Regions from separate parts of the Homo sapiens genome. Here region 1 is linked to region 2. Evidence: fine-mapped expression QTL. Tissue or cell type: whole blood. Region 2 holds a variant in brackets; the other region holds the start of a gene. All regions are shown on one strand. Distances are between the middles of the regions.

Region 1 (8,175 bases), 22 kb after region 2:
ATCACAATGGTTGTCTCTCAGGCACAGCAAGTTCATTTCTGCCTCGGGGCTCCTGCCTGCCCTGTTTCATCTGGAACACTTCCCCAGCTATCATCTAGCTTCCGCAGTGCAGCAAGGCCTCTGCTCAGATGTCTAGTACATTAGTTATTTATTGCCGTGGAACTGATTACCCAAAAACATGGGAGTTCAAACACAACAATCGTCATTTATTCTCTTTCACTTGGTGGGTCAAGAATTTGGGCTTTGCAGGGTGATTCTGACATAAGGGTTTCTTATGCCACTGCAGTCAGATGTCAGCCAGGGTTGCAGTTTCATCTGAAGTCTCTATTGGGGCTTAGGATCCACTTCCAAGATGATTCACTCTCTCACAGTGAGTCACTGCTGGTTGTTGGCTGGGGGCCTAGTTCCTCTCCACACAGGGCTCTCTGCAAGGCAGGTTGAGCATCCTTACAATATAGTAGCTGATTCGCCCCAGAACAAGCTATCTGAAGATGCAAAGGCTGAAGCCATGATGCCTCTGTGACCCAGCCTCAGAAGTCACACTGTCACCCCTGCCACACTTCACTGGCCACACAGACCAGCCTGATTGACTGTGGGAGGAGACTACACAAGGGCATGACCTGGAATGTGAGGATTGCTGGGGCCACCTTGGAGGCTGGCAACCTCATAGGCATCCTCCGCCTCTTTCTTTGCCTGACTCATCTCCCTAGCTCTTACCAGATCAACATGCAGATGTGTGTTTGTGTCCTCTGGTAACAGGGAAGCTCCATGGGGGAGTGGAGCTTCCAGTCTTCCTTGTGATCCAGCTCTGGGTTGGGCCTATGTTTAGGAGATATTTGTTGAATGAATTAATGAGTGACTGAATGGATAAATGATGCTCCCTGGCCATGTGAGAATGTGGGAGGAGAATGTCCTTGCTCCTTGGTGTTCAGGCCCTTCATCACCTACCATCACCTCTTGGCCTGGTTACAGTCAGCTTCAGCCATGAAGGTCTCCCACAGCCCATGGGGGCCTCATGCCTCCTGCCCTGGCCTAGGAACACCCGTTCTTCAGCATCAGCCTCTCGGGGAGGCCACCCTGTCATCTTTATAGCATCTGTCCTTGCCCTCCTATCCTTAACCCTAATCATCAACAGAACTATCTGTGTGCATTCATTAAGTGCCTCCTGCATGCCAGCCTTTGTGGAGTGAACACTGCAGCACAGATGATGGTCAGTGGAGAAGCCATCATAGGGCAAGACTAGTGCTCTGAAGAACAGAGATGGGGGGTGGGGTGCAGTGGCGAGTGACGTGGTCCAGAAGGGCCAGACTCCAAGTGGGGGTGAGGATGCTAGACACAGAGCTGGGAAGAGCATTCTGGGTGGTCACAGCACACATGAAGATTTGTAAATGGCAGAGGTGGCTGCTGGAGGAACTGGAAGGCTGTGAGCCCGGGTGAGGGAGGAGGATGGTCAGACTCAGTGTTATGACCCCTGTGGCCACTATGTGGGTACTGGGCCATGGGGACAAGGATGGGGCAGGGAACCAGTGAGATGTGAGAAGGCGGCTGCCACCTTCCAGGCAAGACATAACAGGGATGGCGGTCACTGAGGTGGGAGCAGGGCTGGGCTTGGAAGGCAGAGCCCACAGGGTCAGGGTGCAGGTGAGCAGAGGCCTGAGGAATGGCTGGCCCTATGAAAACCAGGGGGAGTGCCCCCACCCAACCCAGTGCAAAGAACCCCTGTGGAAATTAGCTTTGCCTGTATAATTTTAAAATTGTGCCTGCTTTCTAATGAGATCAAGCATGTGATGGCAAGAAAATCTGAAAGAAGCAAATAGTAAGGTGGAGGCCGTTCAGAGGAGTGGGGGTGTGTGTGTGTCAGGGCTCTGGCTTCTGTGACGTTGACAAAGATTCTGTGCTTGACAAACTTTAGCCAGGGTCCTGAACTTTCTCCTTGGCCCATCTGTGAACTTCCTTGTAAAATCCAGTTTCAACAAAGAATCCTCCTAATGAGTTTGGCAAGAACTCCCCACCCTGGATACTTGATCACCCTTGATACCCAATCAGGGTGCTTACCCCCACCATCCCCTGGGTGAGGTCTCGTAAGCCCAGGCTGTCTTTGCAAGAATTCTGTCAGCCGGAATCCCCTTCACCCTGATGTTTCCTCTTCCTAATTTTCCATCCTCAAAGTCCCCTCCTGTCCCAAGTGTCCTTGCTGTATTTGGAATTGAGCCCAGTTCTCTGCTGATGTCTCTCTTCCCCTATCACAAGAGTCCCGAATAAAAATCTGTTTCTACATCTGTAACCACAGTCCAGCTCTGGTTTTTCTTTGACAGTGTCCAAGGGCGGGGCTTCCTGTCACACCTCACTTCACTCCTTCTAAGGGGCCCCTCCACCTTCCCAAGAACTCACTTTCCATTTGGGGTCCAGGCAGCCACAGCTGGCAAGAGCTAGCCCGGAGGGAGGATGCGTGTGCTATGCCTGGGGGAGGGGGAATGCCCAGGATCTGCCATTTGACCATGGGGTGCCCGTGCCTGCTTGCAGCCCCCGTGGTGGGCATCCAGGCTGTACACCCCTGGCTGCACCAGCAGCTGTCCTGCTTTCTGCCGCGGCCTTCCATCTCATAGGGTTGGAGGGCACATCCCAGAGGGCACAGGGCTTTCAGTCCCTGCATGCAGGCTTGGGTTCCTTTAAGTAAATCCTTTTCAAACCCTCAGGTGGCTGAGGAACAGCGACCTGTACTTGGGAGGCCACATCTGGCTGCTAGATTTTGGGCAAGGGGCTTCATGCTCCAAACCTCAGTTTCCCTGTTCATCACATGGCCAGGGGCAGTCCTGAGGGCGCAGAAGTGGATGTGAAGGTGGGATGCTACCTTTCCCAAAAGGGGCTGGGGTCAAGGTTCCCTGAAGGTGGGCAGTGCCTGGAGCCCCTGCAGTCCCCACTGTGTCCCCCTTCCACTCCGTCGCCACCCTTATGGCTCTGACATCACTCAGGGGCAGGAGTGTGTGCAAAATAAACCCAGAGAAGTAAGTACTACACGTCATAACAGTGTGATGGATGCAGAAGAATTGGGGTCAGGCTGCATCCCACTGGGGCAAAAGAGGCCCTCTGGGGAAGCCCCCTCTGGGTCCTCCAGGGGAGCACCTGGAGGCCAGAGCCAGCCTGGACTCACCCAGGCACACAAGCAGATGAGAGGCCTGCAGGGACCCACAGGCTGGTCCACTACCCTCCTGCCCTGGGACGGCCCTGTACATGGGCCTGGGGCAGGCTGGGTCTGATGGCAGCCTGGCCTCCTGGGGAGCATGGACGGGGCTCACCTTCAGTGTTTGGGGACAGGGGTGGCTGCTGTATAGTGACCATGACTGGGCCCCAAGAATTTTGAGGTTTCCAGGTGACAACTGCACCCATTCTCCTGATGCCCCCTATGCCGGCCCTGATGGGAGGTCATGGCACAGGGGAGAACTGAGGCAAAGAGACAGATGGCGCATGGACTGCAGGGACCACTGTGCTGTCCGAGAAGGGGACACTGAGTTGGGCCCCCATTCCGGGTCAGGCTCTGGCATCTCAAATTAGAGCTGCTATGGGGGAACGGCCCACACAGGCAGGGAAGGAAAGAGGAAGGGAAACTGCTGCTGCTGGCTGGGAGAGTGCTGCTATTCCTTCCTTCACGGGTCTCCACTTCCTGGCTGGGGCCCAGTGCATTCACATCATGTGGGGCTAGGAGCTTCTTGTGGCGGGCTCCGGAGCTGGAAATGCCAGGCCTACGAGAGGGAAAGCAGGAAGGAAAGCGGGAGGGAAGTGGAGTTGGCCCAAGGTCACTCATTTTACAGTCCAGGAAACTGAGGCTCAGGCAGGTTAAGTGACCTCTCTAGTTCGGGTCACACTGTCAAGCTAGTGTCTTCTTTTGAAGGTGGGGGACTGGGGTCCCCCAAGAAGGTGTCCCCCCCCCACCCCGCCGAGCGAGGTCACACCGTTGAGTCCTTCTCCCCTGGATTTGGGAAAGCATCACTGGGCACTGCCTCCTTTGGCTGGTCCCTGTGGCGTACTGGACGCCCACCGGCCTTTTGCCCCAGGCCTGGCCCTGTACTCCCCAGGGCCTGACTTTCTGTATGACGTTGGATCAGTCACGTCCCCTCTCAGTTTCAGTTTTCTCATCCAAGGGGTGGGGCGCGAGGCCGGGAGCGGGGAGGTGGACTGAGCCGGCCGGCGGGCCACCTGGATCCCGACTCCGCCACTCAACGCGGCAGGGCCCGGAAGGGCGGGCCCAAGACGGGCAGGGCTCCGGGCAGGAGCGGGCGCCTCCAGGGAGGCGCGCGGCGGTCGTAGCTGAGGCCGCCTTGAGGGCGGGACTTGGACGCGGGCAGGGCTCGAGTGAGAGGCGGGGTTAAAGGCCGCTGCGACGGCGTTATAGACGCCGGCGGGACCGGGGCCCAGCGAGGGGAGGGACTCTGGGCCCCTCGCGGCGTCTTAACTGACGCTGGGAGGGGCGGGAGTCCGGTGGCGCCCGCCCACGCCCGCAGTCGCCCGCCCACGCCCGCAGTCGCATGGCAGAGCAGGAAGGGGCGGGGCTCAGGGCCCCTGGAGGCGCGGAGGCCGACGACGGAGGGGGGCGGGGCTCGAGTAAGGGGCGGGGCCCGGTGGGGGGTTCCTTGAGGCTCGGAAGCCGTCGTCGGAGGGGGCGGGGTTCAGGTGCAGGGCGGGGCTCAGAACTCCGGGAGAGGCGGAAGCCGACGCCGGAGGGGGCGGGGCTCGAGTGAGGGGCAAGGCTCCAGGATCCTCGCAGCGGCCTATCCCAGGACGGCAAGGGGGCGGGACTCGAGTGAGAGGGGCGGAGTTTAGAGCCCTGGGGGAGCCGTAGCGGGCGCGGAAGGGGCGGGGCCTAACGGTAGGGGGCGGGGCTCGTCAAAGGGCGGGGTTTAGAGTCCCCGAGGCTACACAGCCAAAGCCGGGGGGCTGGCCTAGCCAAAAGGGGCGGGCGAGCACGGCCCGCGGGCGGCGTTCGCTGGAGCTGGTGGACCGGGCGGCTGACCGAGGGGCGGACGCGCGGCGGGGCAGACCGCTGGGGACTGCGGGCGGCGCTGTGTCCGTCGCCATGACAGGTGGGCACGGGGTCGGCTGGGCGGCAGGGATGCGGGCGCCCTGGATGGGTGGCCCGGCCCGGGGGTCCGGCTGCCTTGCGAGTCGCCTGCAGGCCGCGCCTGGGCAGCGGGGGCCGAGTGACCTTGGCCCGTCAGCTGTCGGTGGTGCGCGAGTGCACCCCCGCGAAGTGGTGGGTGTCCCGGGGCTTCTACCCGGCGGGGCCGTGCCAGCCGAGGCGGTGCCGGGCATGATGGGTGGTGGCCAGGTGCGGGGCCCGAAGAGGGCGGGGGCTACAAGGCAGCTCCAGGGTGGGGCTGCACAGCCGCGGTCTGGGCTCAGCCACTGCCAATGTGTGTGTGTCCCGTGGTGGGGAATTTGGTCTGAAAGAGTAGGAGGTGGTAGAAATGACACCGGAGAGAATTCACAGCGGTCCTGCTGTGATTCTGGCCACGGAAACAACGCTCCATCCTTACAACCACCCCAGCGAGGTCGCGGGACAGGCGATGCGTTCCTCGGCGGCATGTGATTCCTGTGGGACTCTTGGAGTCTCCCAGACTCCTTCGGTGGTCCACGACGCTCTTGCCCCTGTTTAGTTCTAAGAGAATCGGGGACAGCGACTGGACCCCCCAAGGTTGTTGTGCTCCACGCTAGTGGCCCCAGCCCAGCCTTCCTCCCCAGGGCCTCTCTGGTCTGGGGACCTGCCCACCATCCTCCTGATCCCAAACAGGGTGACTCTGCCCTGTGGACCTTCCCCTGTTGGAGAAGCCCCATGAGGGTGATGGGCTGGTAAGGGACCCCATGGCAGCCCGGCCAGGGAGTATGGGGGTTCCCAGAAGCTACACTTCATTCTTACTGTTCTGTTTCATGGAGCAGAATTGGCTCAGGGGCTCAGGGTAGCCCCAGAAGTCCCTAGTCCTCTCTCGGTGCTCGCTCTCTTGAGTCTCAGCCTAGGTCCTGCCCACAAATAGGATCTCATGGGCTGGAAACTGATGACTTCCAGGACACCAGGCCAGAAGAGACTTCCAGCCTAGGCCACAAGAGACCCCAGCTGCCACCTGCTCCCCTTTGTCCTCCCTTCTAACTCTTCTTATTTGTGGCTCTCATTTCTGAGCACTTACTGTGCATTGGACCCTGTGTTGGGTGATTCCTGTTTGAAAATGATCAGATGGGGACACCTGGAATATCTCGTCTGTGTACAGATGGGGAAACAAAGTCTTAAATTGTGCCCTGCCCAGGCTGGGATTCCGTAATTCCCTTAGTGAGTTCATCAGAATGCGTGGGACACAACTCAGAGCTGTGTTGGTCTCCAGGGAGCCCTGTCCCAGGGACTGGGTGTTGGCAGAGCCTGAGGCCTTGCTGTCCATTAAGGAGCCTTCCTGCACAAAGGGACTTTGTCCCTTTCTGCCTGTCAGGGAAGCTTCCTTGCATAAGGGGACCCTGGAGCTGGGAAACCACATCAGGCAGGGGTCCCTGAAGGCTCTGACTATAGGCCTCACCTTGTCCAGTGTATGCTTCCTACCTGCTATGTCTACTCACTGGGCCTGGAGACATTCCCTCACAACCCTTAGTTTTTGGGATGGGGAACCAAGGCCCATGGAGCACAGCTCTGGGAGGGTCATATGGACAGCCCTGCGAGGCTGCAGACCCATAGTCCCAGGCTCACTGCCTCCATGCACCAACTGGGGTCCTGCCTTGCGCCAGCCCTCGCTGTGAGCAGCGCATGTGAGCCAGTGCCTGCAGAACGCTGAGGAGGTGTCTGCGTGGGGCAGGTGCTTGACAAGTTACCCCCTGGGCTGTGCCGGGGAGTGAGCAGTTTTAGTTGGGCTGAGCACTGAGAGAAGGGGTTTCCTGGAAGAAATTCGGGAGAGGAGGTTGATGCCCAAGTGTCTGGACTCCAGTTGGTTGGGGATGACAGGAACTCAGGAAGGCCTTTTGCACGTAGAACAGCAAGGTGAACATGAATTAACCAGGTGGAAACCAAGGAACAGGTATTCTCAGCCTGGGCTGAGATGTCTTGTGGGCCTAGAGGGCCCGGTGAGAGTGGGTGGGGCCAGCTCCCACGGGGCCTTGAATGCCAGGCTGAGGGCATCAGTCTGGGCTGATAAGAAGGTTCATATTGGGGTGTTTGAATGGGGGTCCATAGTCCTGGTGCCAGCCTGGCAAGAAGGAAGGGGATGTAGGGCGTGGTGAAGGCTTGCCAGGTCTGTGCCAGAGCGAGCCATCTTCCTTTGTCCTGTAAAAACAGTTCAGGGACTTGTTTATCGGGAGCTGGCACTGAGATGGTTTCCCTTCTTGTGCCTTTTCTGGCTTCCAAGTGCTGCCTGTTTGTGTGCACAACTCGCAACCACAGGAAGCACAGGACCCCCAAGCCGCAGAGCCTGGCTTCAGCCTCCGGACCGTGCGGCCTGTGCCAGCTGACTCACGGCTCATGGTGACTCATGGCTCTGCAGCAGCGGAGGCTCTGCCTGGTTAGCGGCTTGCAGGGCAGGAGGAAGCCACTACAGGATGCTGGCCACGGTCCACCTACAGCCCTTGCCCCTGGGTCTTGGACCATACATTGCAGAACTCTTTTTTTTTTTTTTTTTTTGAGACAGAGTCTCATTCTGTCACCCAAGCTGGAGTGCAGTGGTGCAATCTTGGCTCACTGCAACCTCTGCCTCCTGGGTTCAAGGAATTCTTCTGCCTTAGCCTCCTGAGTAGCTGGCTCAGCCTTCTGAGTAGCTGGGAATACAGGCGTGTGCCAGCATGACCAGCTAATTTTTTTTGTATTTTTAGTAGAGATGGGGTTTCACCATGTTGCCCAGGCTGGTCTTGAACTCCTGACCTCATGATCCATCTGCCTCGGCCTCCCAAAGTGCTGGGATTATAGGCGTGAGCCACCGCGTCCGGCCTGCAGAACTCTTTAGTGAGCACCTACTGGGTGCTCAGCCAAGTGGGCAATGCTGGAGAGGACAGCCTTGGGCGTGCTTTTGGACTGGCAGGGAGTAGACTGCTGTAGCTGATTACAGTGAATTTCCATGTTAATTAGAGAGGCAGAACGTCTGAATATCAAGAGGTGGTCCTCAACATGGCTGTGCCTGGGCCTGGATCTTGATCTGTCACTTCATATCTGGTTGC
Region 2 (8,175 bases):
ATTGAACAGAGTGAAAGATTAATGATAACCAGTAATAAGTTATACCAATTATAACAATATATTATAATAAGAGTAATGTGAATGTGGTCTCTCTCTCTCTAAATATCTTAATAGACGGTACTCACCCTTCTTGCGATGATGTGAGATGATAAAATGCCTACATGATGAGATGAAGTGAGATGAAAAACATAGGCCTTGTGATGGAATGGGAAATTCCAGAGATAATTTGTAAGTTTTACACTGTGAGCCACTCTGAGTGTTGTGATGAAATCTCACCCATCCCGCTCCACCCCGCCTGGGATTGCTGTCAGTCACTTAGTAGCCCTCTGGGTTATCAGACCCCCTGATACTGCAGTGCTTGTGTTCAGGCAACTCTCATTTCACTTAATAATGGCCCAAAACACAACTGTTGTGAGGTACTATTTTCTGATTGTGGAACCACCGGTAACTGAAACCATGGAAAGTGAAAACAAGGATAAGGACGGACTACCATAATATGTTGCCATCGTAACAATATTAAGTCTTCTGATCCATGAGCATAGGATGTTTTCCCATTTATTTAGGTCTTTAATTTCTTTCAACAACGTTTTGTAGTTTTCAGAGTATGTGTTTTGCACTTCTGTTATTAAATTTATAACTAATTTATTCTTTTTGATGCTGTTGTATAAAATGTTTTTCTTAATTTTCAATTTGCTCACTGCTACTGTACAGAAATACATTGACTTCTGTATGTTGACCTGGTATTCTACAACCTTGCTGAACTAATTTCTATTTATAATAGCTTTTAGTGGATTTCTGAGGCTTTTCTACATATATACGAAATCATGTCATCTAATGGAGATTGTTTTACTTCTTCCTTTTTTTTTTCTTTTTTTTTGAGATGGAGTCTCACTTTGTTGCCCAGGCTGGAGTGCAGTGGTACGATTTTGGCTCACTGCAACCTCTGCTTCCTGGGATCAGGCGATTCTCCTGCCTCAGCCTCCCAAGTAGCTGGGATTACAGACATGTGCCACCCACACCCGGTTAATTTTTGATTTTAGTACAGATAGGGTTTCACCATGTTGGCCAGGCTGGTCTTGAACTCCTGACCTCAAGTGATCCACCTGCCTCGGCCTCCCAAAGTGCTGGGATTACAGGCATGAGCCACCATGCCTGGCCGAGCCATTTGTTTTTCTTTTCTAACTTACACATTTTGCTGTGATTTTTGTCATTGGCTTATTAATATATAAGTGCTGTTTATGTAGAGAAGATACAAATCTCCTATTACATATATGTTACAAATATAAGAATCTTAGACACCGCATCTAGTGGTGGCTCCCTCCCTGCTATCAGTGGGCATTTGGGCAGGTGAATCCACCTCTCTGAGCCTTATCTGTAATAATACAGATAAAGAATGTGGGGTGCTCTTGAACAGAATATTCTATCCATACATGCATTGTTATTGTTAGTGGCTGTGCAAATGCTGAGGATCCATAGACAGGGAGCAGTCAGAATGGCCCTGCCCAGGCCAGAGGCTGGCCTTCCCCAGATACTGAAGGGGCAGAAAGGATGGGGGCAGCCCGGGGATAAAGAGCCAGGTGCCTGCGGTTGACCCTGGCGGAACCACAAACTGGCTGTGTGACCTCAGTGTCCCTGAGCCATGGTTTCTGGGGCTGCAGAATGGGGGAGACAGTTCTTCCAAGGACATCATGGCTCCTGCCCTCATGTGTACCAGGCACAACCACCTTCCAGATGCCTTGGCATTACACCTCATTTCCTCAGCACCCCAGTCCAAGGTGGGCACAACAGCTGTGCTGACTTTGAGGCCGGGGCAGGCTCCCTTGCCTGGGCCCCCAAATGTGTGTGGTGGAGGTGGACTAGGAGCCCCACAGGCTGGAACCCGTGTGTTCGTTTCTGTACTGTCACCCAACAGCTGCTGAAGCGCTCAGCACAGAGTAGAGCCTGGGCATTATTCTTCCTTCTATTATTATTGTTGCTGATATTCCTACTTTTGTTATTGTCACCTTGGGGCCCCAAGTGGACCAGCCAGAATCCCAAGCGCTAAATAGGGCACTGGGCTGAGACGTGTTGCTGAAGCTTTGTATCAGATTTGAGCCAGTCCACTTAACAAATCCACAAGAAAACAGTGGCCTAACTCCAGCTGGAGTTTATTGCTGTCTCTTCTTAGGATCCGAGAGGTTGGTCTGTCCTTTCACATGTCTACCATCTTTGCTCCCTGTATTAGTCAGGGTTCTCTAGAGGGACTGGACTAATAGCATAGATGTATATATAAAGGGGAGTTTATTAAGGAGTATTGACTCACACGATAACAAGGTGAAGTCCCACAATAGGCTGCCTGCAAGCTAAGGAGCAAGGAAGCCAGTCTGAGTCCTAAAACCTCAAAAGTAGGGAAGACAGTGCAGCCTTCAGTCTGTGGCAGAAGGCCCGACAGCCGTTGGCAAGCCACTGGTGTAAGTCCAAGAATCCAAAAGCTGAAGAACTTGGAGTCTGATGTTCAAAGGCAGGAAGCATCCAGCATGGGAGAAAGATGAAGGTCAGAAGATTCAGCCAATCTAGTCCTTCCACGTTCCTCTGCCTGCTTTTATTCTAGCCTCACTGGCAGCTGATTAGATGGTGCCCACCAGATTAAGGGTGGGTCTGCTTCTCCCAGTCCACCGACGCAAATGTTAATCTCCTTTGGCAACACCCTCACAGACACACCCAGTGACGATACATTGCGTCCTTCAATTCAATCAAGTTGACACTCAATATTAACCATCACACTCCCCAATGCAGAAGTGACACAGCATCTATGCTCACACCTCATTGGCCAGGTTCAGTCACGTGACTGCTCCCTGGAGGGCAGGTTGGGAAATGTAGTTTTCAGTGGTGATCACATTTCCAGCTGCAACTCTGGGATGGGGAGAAGGGATACTAGAGGCAACCGCAGCCAGGGGTGGGAACTAGAGTTGCAGCTGCCCAGGATGAGGTGAGATGGGGCAGATTCCACCCACTGGGCTTGGCCATCAGGTGGGGCTCCCGAAACAGTGTGCTGGGTCTCAGTTCCATCCCTACCACCTTCCCACTGAGTGACCTTGGGCATGCCATTGAGCTTTGCTGTGCCTCAGTTTCCCCATCTGTAAGGTAGGGGTAGACCACCCTCCTCATAGGGCTATAATGCAGTACAGCACCCATTAGGCCCCCAGTGTTGTCTGTGTTAGATCAGTCCCTCCCCCATCCCTCCCAGAAAAGTACACAAACCATAAGCCCCTCCCACCCCTCTTCCCTTGCTAGCAAGTATCCTCAAGGCAGAAGCAGTGTAGCCTGACCCTCCCAAAGCGGTGGGGCATGTCTGCCTCAACCCCTCCTGAGGGCCACCCCTGCCTCTGCACTCTCGCCCTCAGCATCTCAGCTTGTTAAGGCCCTGGGGTCCTCAGTCATGCAGAGGCCAGGGGCAGGGGGACCACTGGGTGCTGCTGGGGAGTGGGTCAATGTGACCTGGCCAGCTGCAGCCAAATGCCATCCTTCACTGTCACTACCATGGCACAGAGCCTCTGGTAGCCTCCACTTTTGCCAGATCCCAGACCAGACTTCGGAGCCTGGCCTGAAGCCCAGCTCTGCTGATGCCCATTAATAGCCGTGGCACACATGGCTGGGGCAAGGGGTGGTGTGACCTCTCTGAGCCTCAGTTTCCCCCCAGATGGGCTTGTGAATTGAGATGTGGGGTAAGAAATGGAGTGATATGTCTCGCAGATAAAGACCTTGCCTGGGCACACAGCCAGCCCACGTGACTGCTCCTGGGC[A/G]GATGTGAATAAATCTGGGGGATGGTATGCAGCCTACCGCAGATGTCTTTGGTAAACATTTTAAAATTAGAGTCCACAGAGTTTGCTGGCCAATTGGTTGTGGATTGAGAAAGTAGGTTTCAAGGTTTAGGGCCCAAGCAACTGAAGGATGGAGGGACTGCTGATTTAAATTAAAGTTATAAGAGGAGAAGCTACATGGTGAGCAGGTTTGGGGAGCTCAGAAGCTTGGCTATGTCTCATCTCAGGCTCGGTGGGCAGTAGGACTTCCATTCCTGGCACCCAGGGCATGGTCCTGGCTGGAGATGTAGCACACAGAGGACAGAGGAAGGTCGTAGCAGGTCAGTGTGGAATAATGGGGTCCCTCAGACTCTGCATGCCCCAGTTTTTGTCCCTGCCATCACCCCCATCTCTGGGTGTCAGTCCCTGCCTGTGCCGAGGGAGACAGGCACAGAGATGCTCAGGTGGCCCTTCACCACTGCTGCCTCCGGTCAGTCTCTGCCTCTGCACACACCATGCATCAGCACGGCCTGCTGTCCCTGTTCTTTTTTTTTTTTTTTTTTTTGAGACGGAGTCTCGCTCTGTCGCCCAGGCTGGAGTGCAGTGGTGCAATCTCGGCTCACTGCAAGCTCTGCCTCCTGGGTTCACACCATTCTCCTGCCTCAGCCTCCCAAGTAGCTGGGACTTCAGGCGCCCGCCACCACACCTGGCTAATTATTTTTCTATTTTTAGTAAAGACGGGGTTTCACCGTGTTAGCCAGGATGGTCTCAATCTCCTGCCCTCGTGATCCGCCCGCCTCGGCCTCCCAAAGTGCTGGGATTACAGGCGTGAGCCACCGTGCCCGTCCTGTCCCTGTTCTTTACCTGTGATGCACCAGCGGTCCACTGTCAATGCCCAAAAATCAGGAAATACCAGATAAGCAGGAGGAAGAGCCTCCTGGATTTGGACACCAGGAGACCTGCTTGGGGATGTCCTTAGCAGTTTCACTGAACGTCCTTGAACCCCAGAGACAACTCAGATGCAGGGAACAGGGACACACACTGAGGCCCATCTGCACAATGGAACACTTCACTGCTGTGAAAAGTAACCAGCTGCTGATATATGCATAGCACAACGACTCAGATGCATTTTGTGTGTGTGTCTGTGTGTGTATGAACGTGTGTGAAGTTAGACCAGAGCCTCCTTGTCTGGTTCTGAGTCTTCCCTGCAGCATAAGAGCCGTGTGACTGCAAAAAGTGTGGTAAGACCCTCTGCCCAGTTTGCTCATCTGTCGATGGGGATAATGATGGTTCTCCCTGGGTAGGCTGCTATGCCGATAGATGATGGCACATGTAAGGCAGGTGCAATGGCATCCAGCCACAGTAATCTTCTCAGTCCCAGCTGTTGTCGTTATAATTTTATAAAAATTCTTGATTGCTGTTGCATCCAGAGCATCTCTGTGTCCTTATTTAAGAACATCACTGGCCGGGTGTGGTGGCTCACGTCTGTAATCCCAGCACTTTGGGAGGCCAAGGCGGCCGGATCACGAGGTCATCATGGCCAACATGGTGAAACCCCGTCTCTACTAAAAATACAAAAAATCAGCCAGGTGTGGTCGCACATGCCTGTAATCCCAGCTACTCGGGAGGGTGAGGCAGGAGAATTGCTTGAACCCAGGAGGTGGAGGTTGCTGTGAGCTGAGATCACGCCATTGCACACTCCAGCCTGGGCGACAGGGCAAGACTCTGACTCAAAAAAAAAAAAAAAAAAAAAAAAAAAGAACATCACTGTAAGTGCTCTCTGGTATTTTAATGTCTGGATGGCCCTGGGTAAGGGAATCATTCCCTCCTGCTGGAGGCGTGGGTTGTTTCAGCCTTTCACTATTATGTATGGTTCTGAGGTGGGCTTCCCCATAGAGAAATCTTGGCAGCAGATTCTTTTTTTTTTTTTTTTTTTTTTGAGATGCAGTCTCACTCTGTTGCCAGGCTGGAGTGCAGTGATCTTGGCTCACTGCAACCTCTGACTCCCTGGTTCAATCGATTCTCCTGCCTCAGCCTCCTGAGTAGCTGGAATTACAGGCACATGCCACCATGCCCAGCTAATTTTTGTATTTTTAGTAGAGATGGGGTTTCACCATGTTGGCCAGGATGGTCTCAATCCCCGACCTCATGATCCACCTGCCTCGGCCTCCCAAAGTGCTGGGATTACAAGCATGAGCCACCATGCCTGGCCAGCAGATTCTTATTTCCTGTGGCTAAAGGTTCATATGCAACATAGGGTGCTTATTGCATTTACCAAATGCTCTGCAGAAAGGTTGGATCTGTACCCCAGCCCGGGTACAGGGCTTCCCAGGCCCTGCCAACTTGCACATTGTTTTCTTTTTGCCTTTACCTCACCGACGCAGGAAAAATGAGCTCTCCCTTGAATCAACATTTCCTCAATTGCCTGTGGGTCTGCATTTTTCATGACTGTGGGCCACTGGTATCCTTGTGAATTGCTTGTTCACACATTAGAACTTGTTGGTTTTTTTTAAACTGAATATTCAGTTTTCATTGATGTGTAAGACCTCTTCATAGATTAAGACTACCGAACCAACCTTTGACCTATGCTTTCCAAATATCCTTTCCCGAATTTTTCACCTGAGTTGGTTGTTTTCCATTATTAGGGAGCCTCAGAAGCTTTTGCTTTCTGCTTTGTATGCAGTCAAATCTGCTGATCTCTCTCTGTCCCTCTTTTTTTTTTTTTTTTTTTTTTTGTTCTGATTTCTGCCTTTGGAGCCGTGTTTAGGTCATAATCAAAGGCCATGCCTCAGTGTCTCAGGGAAGGTATGTTTGCTTTTATTGTCTTCTAACACTTATTTCTTTTTTTAATGCTCCAATCCTCAACATCTAGAGTGTACTTCATGGAGGGATCCAGCTCTGCGTTGTCCCCCGGTCTGGATGACCCCATGTGACCTCTAGAGCATCCAATGGCCTTTGGAGCTGCACCCCACCCCTGTGCTCCCCAATGCTGTGCCAGCTCCTCACTCCAGGGTCCTGCCCAGCCCTGCCCTGCGTGCCCACCCCCCCCCCCCCGCCATGCCTCATACCTGCCTGTCTCCCCAGGCACGTGCGCTAAGCTGCGGCTACCCCCGCAAGCAACCTTCCAAGTCCTTCGTGGCAATGGTGCTTCCGTGGGGACCGTGCTCATGTTCCGCTGCCCCTCCAACCACCAGATGGTGGGGTCTGGGCTCCTCACCTGCACCTGGAAGGGGAGCATCGCTGAGTGGTCTTCAGGGTCCCCAGTGTGCAAACGTAAGGACCCCTCTCTCAGCTCGGTGGCTCTGGGGGTGGGGGATGGCCCCAAATCCTGTCATGGGGATGGTGTGGGTGGGGATGGCGTGGGTGTCTACTCACAAGCAGCTAGGCCAGTGTGTAGGGTCCCATTCCCAACACTGACAGCTTGCTTACATGTCAGCAGCCGGCTGTAGGCCCTCAGCCCTCCCAGTGCCATGTTGGCAGCACGGACCGAAAACCTAGTAGCGGGCCTCCAATCCTGGCTCTGCTACCGACTCAGCCCCTCACCGCCAAGAGGCTGTGCATGCTCTCTGAGCCAGCACGTTTTCATCTGTTAAGCAGGAAACTATGTTTGTTCATTCATTCATTCATTCATTCATTCATTCATGTACAGGTGCACATGGCCAACTTTAATAGGATATTTCACGTATCAGGAATCTTAAGTACTGGCAACACGGAAGGTCATAACGTGCCTGGCCCTGGAGCTCCCAGTCTGTGGGAGGCAATGGTTTTCTGGTTGTATTTCTTGTACAGGTGTTGAAAGGTCCACAAGATAGTCCCTTTTCAGTGCCCAGCATGACATTTCCAAAATGAAGCTATGTGTGTTATGTTCATGTGTTTTGTGCATAAAAAGGGCTCAGAGTCAAAATAGTTTGGCAGATTCTGGGTTTTTATGCTGCAGAACTTCTCAGAGCCTTTAAAATGTTCACGTGCTAGGTGATTCTCTGAGGATGCGAGTGTTAGGATTAGATTCTGAAAGGCAGAAAACCCAAAATACTAGGATTAACTATGATGGAGCTCAACCTTCAGGGTGGGCAGGCAGATCTGTATAGGCTCCATGGCAGTGGGAGCCAGGCCCCTTCCCTGGCATGGCTCTGCTGGGCATGGCCTCAGCCTCATGATTCAAGATGGCAGCAGCTATGTTCCAGGCAGCTGTTATGGGGTGAGGGGCCCTGGGGCCAAAGAGCAGGCCCCAGTGTCTCAGGGAAGGTTCTTAGAAGTTGCCCCACATCACTTCTTATCTTCCACTGGCCAGAACATGGTCCTGTGACCACTGGGAAATGTAGTCTCCATTTTGGGTGGCCAGGATCCACTAGGGAGCATGGGAAATGGGGCAGGGGACAGGGCCATGTTCTCTACG

Evidence for each region. PIP is the estimated chance that this variant, and not a neighbour inherited with it, causes the effect.
Region 1: it holds the start of CARD19, and the variant in region 2 is fine-mapped to the expression of CARD19 in whole blood (TOPMed, PIP 0.91).

Annotation. Positions count from the first base shown.
Region 1 is chr9:93,091,275-93,099,449 of GRCh38, forward strand. CARD19 (caspase recruitment domain family member 19) reads left to right here and starts at 4,943. Exons shown (of 6, transcript NM_032310.5): 1 at 4,943-5,078. The coding sequence starts at 5,072. It overlaps LOC101927993 (a long non-coding RNA gene), which reads right to left and starts at 4,236. Exons shown (of 4, transcript NR_188444.1): 1 at 4,094-4,236; 2 at 3,297-3,740; 3 at 718-819; 4 at 186-425. RefSeq lists enhancers at 3,931-3,980, 7,174-7,243 and silencers at 4,091-4,400, 4,421-5,170, 5,191-5,300.
Region 2 is chr9:93,068,921-93,077,095 of GRCh38, forward strand. SUSD3 (sushi domain containing 3) reads left to right here. Exons shown (of 5, transcript NM_145006.4): 2 at 6,864-7,052. Among named protein-coding and RNA genes, the nearest start is that of SUSD3, 14 kb to the left of the region's middle. RefSeq lists an enhancer at 2,647-2,941. The variant A/G (reference allele first, on the strand shown) is at 3,783.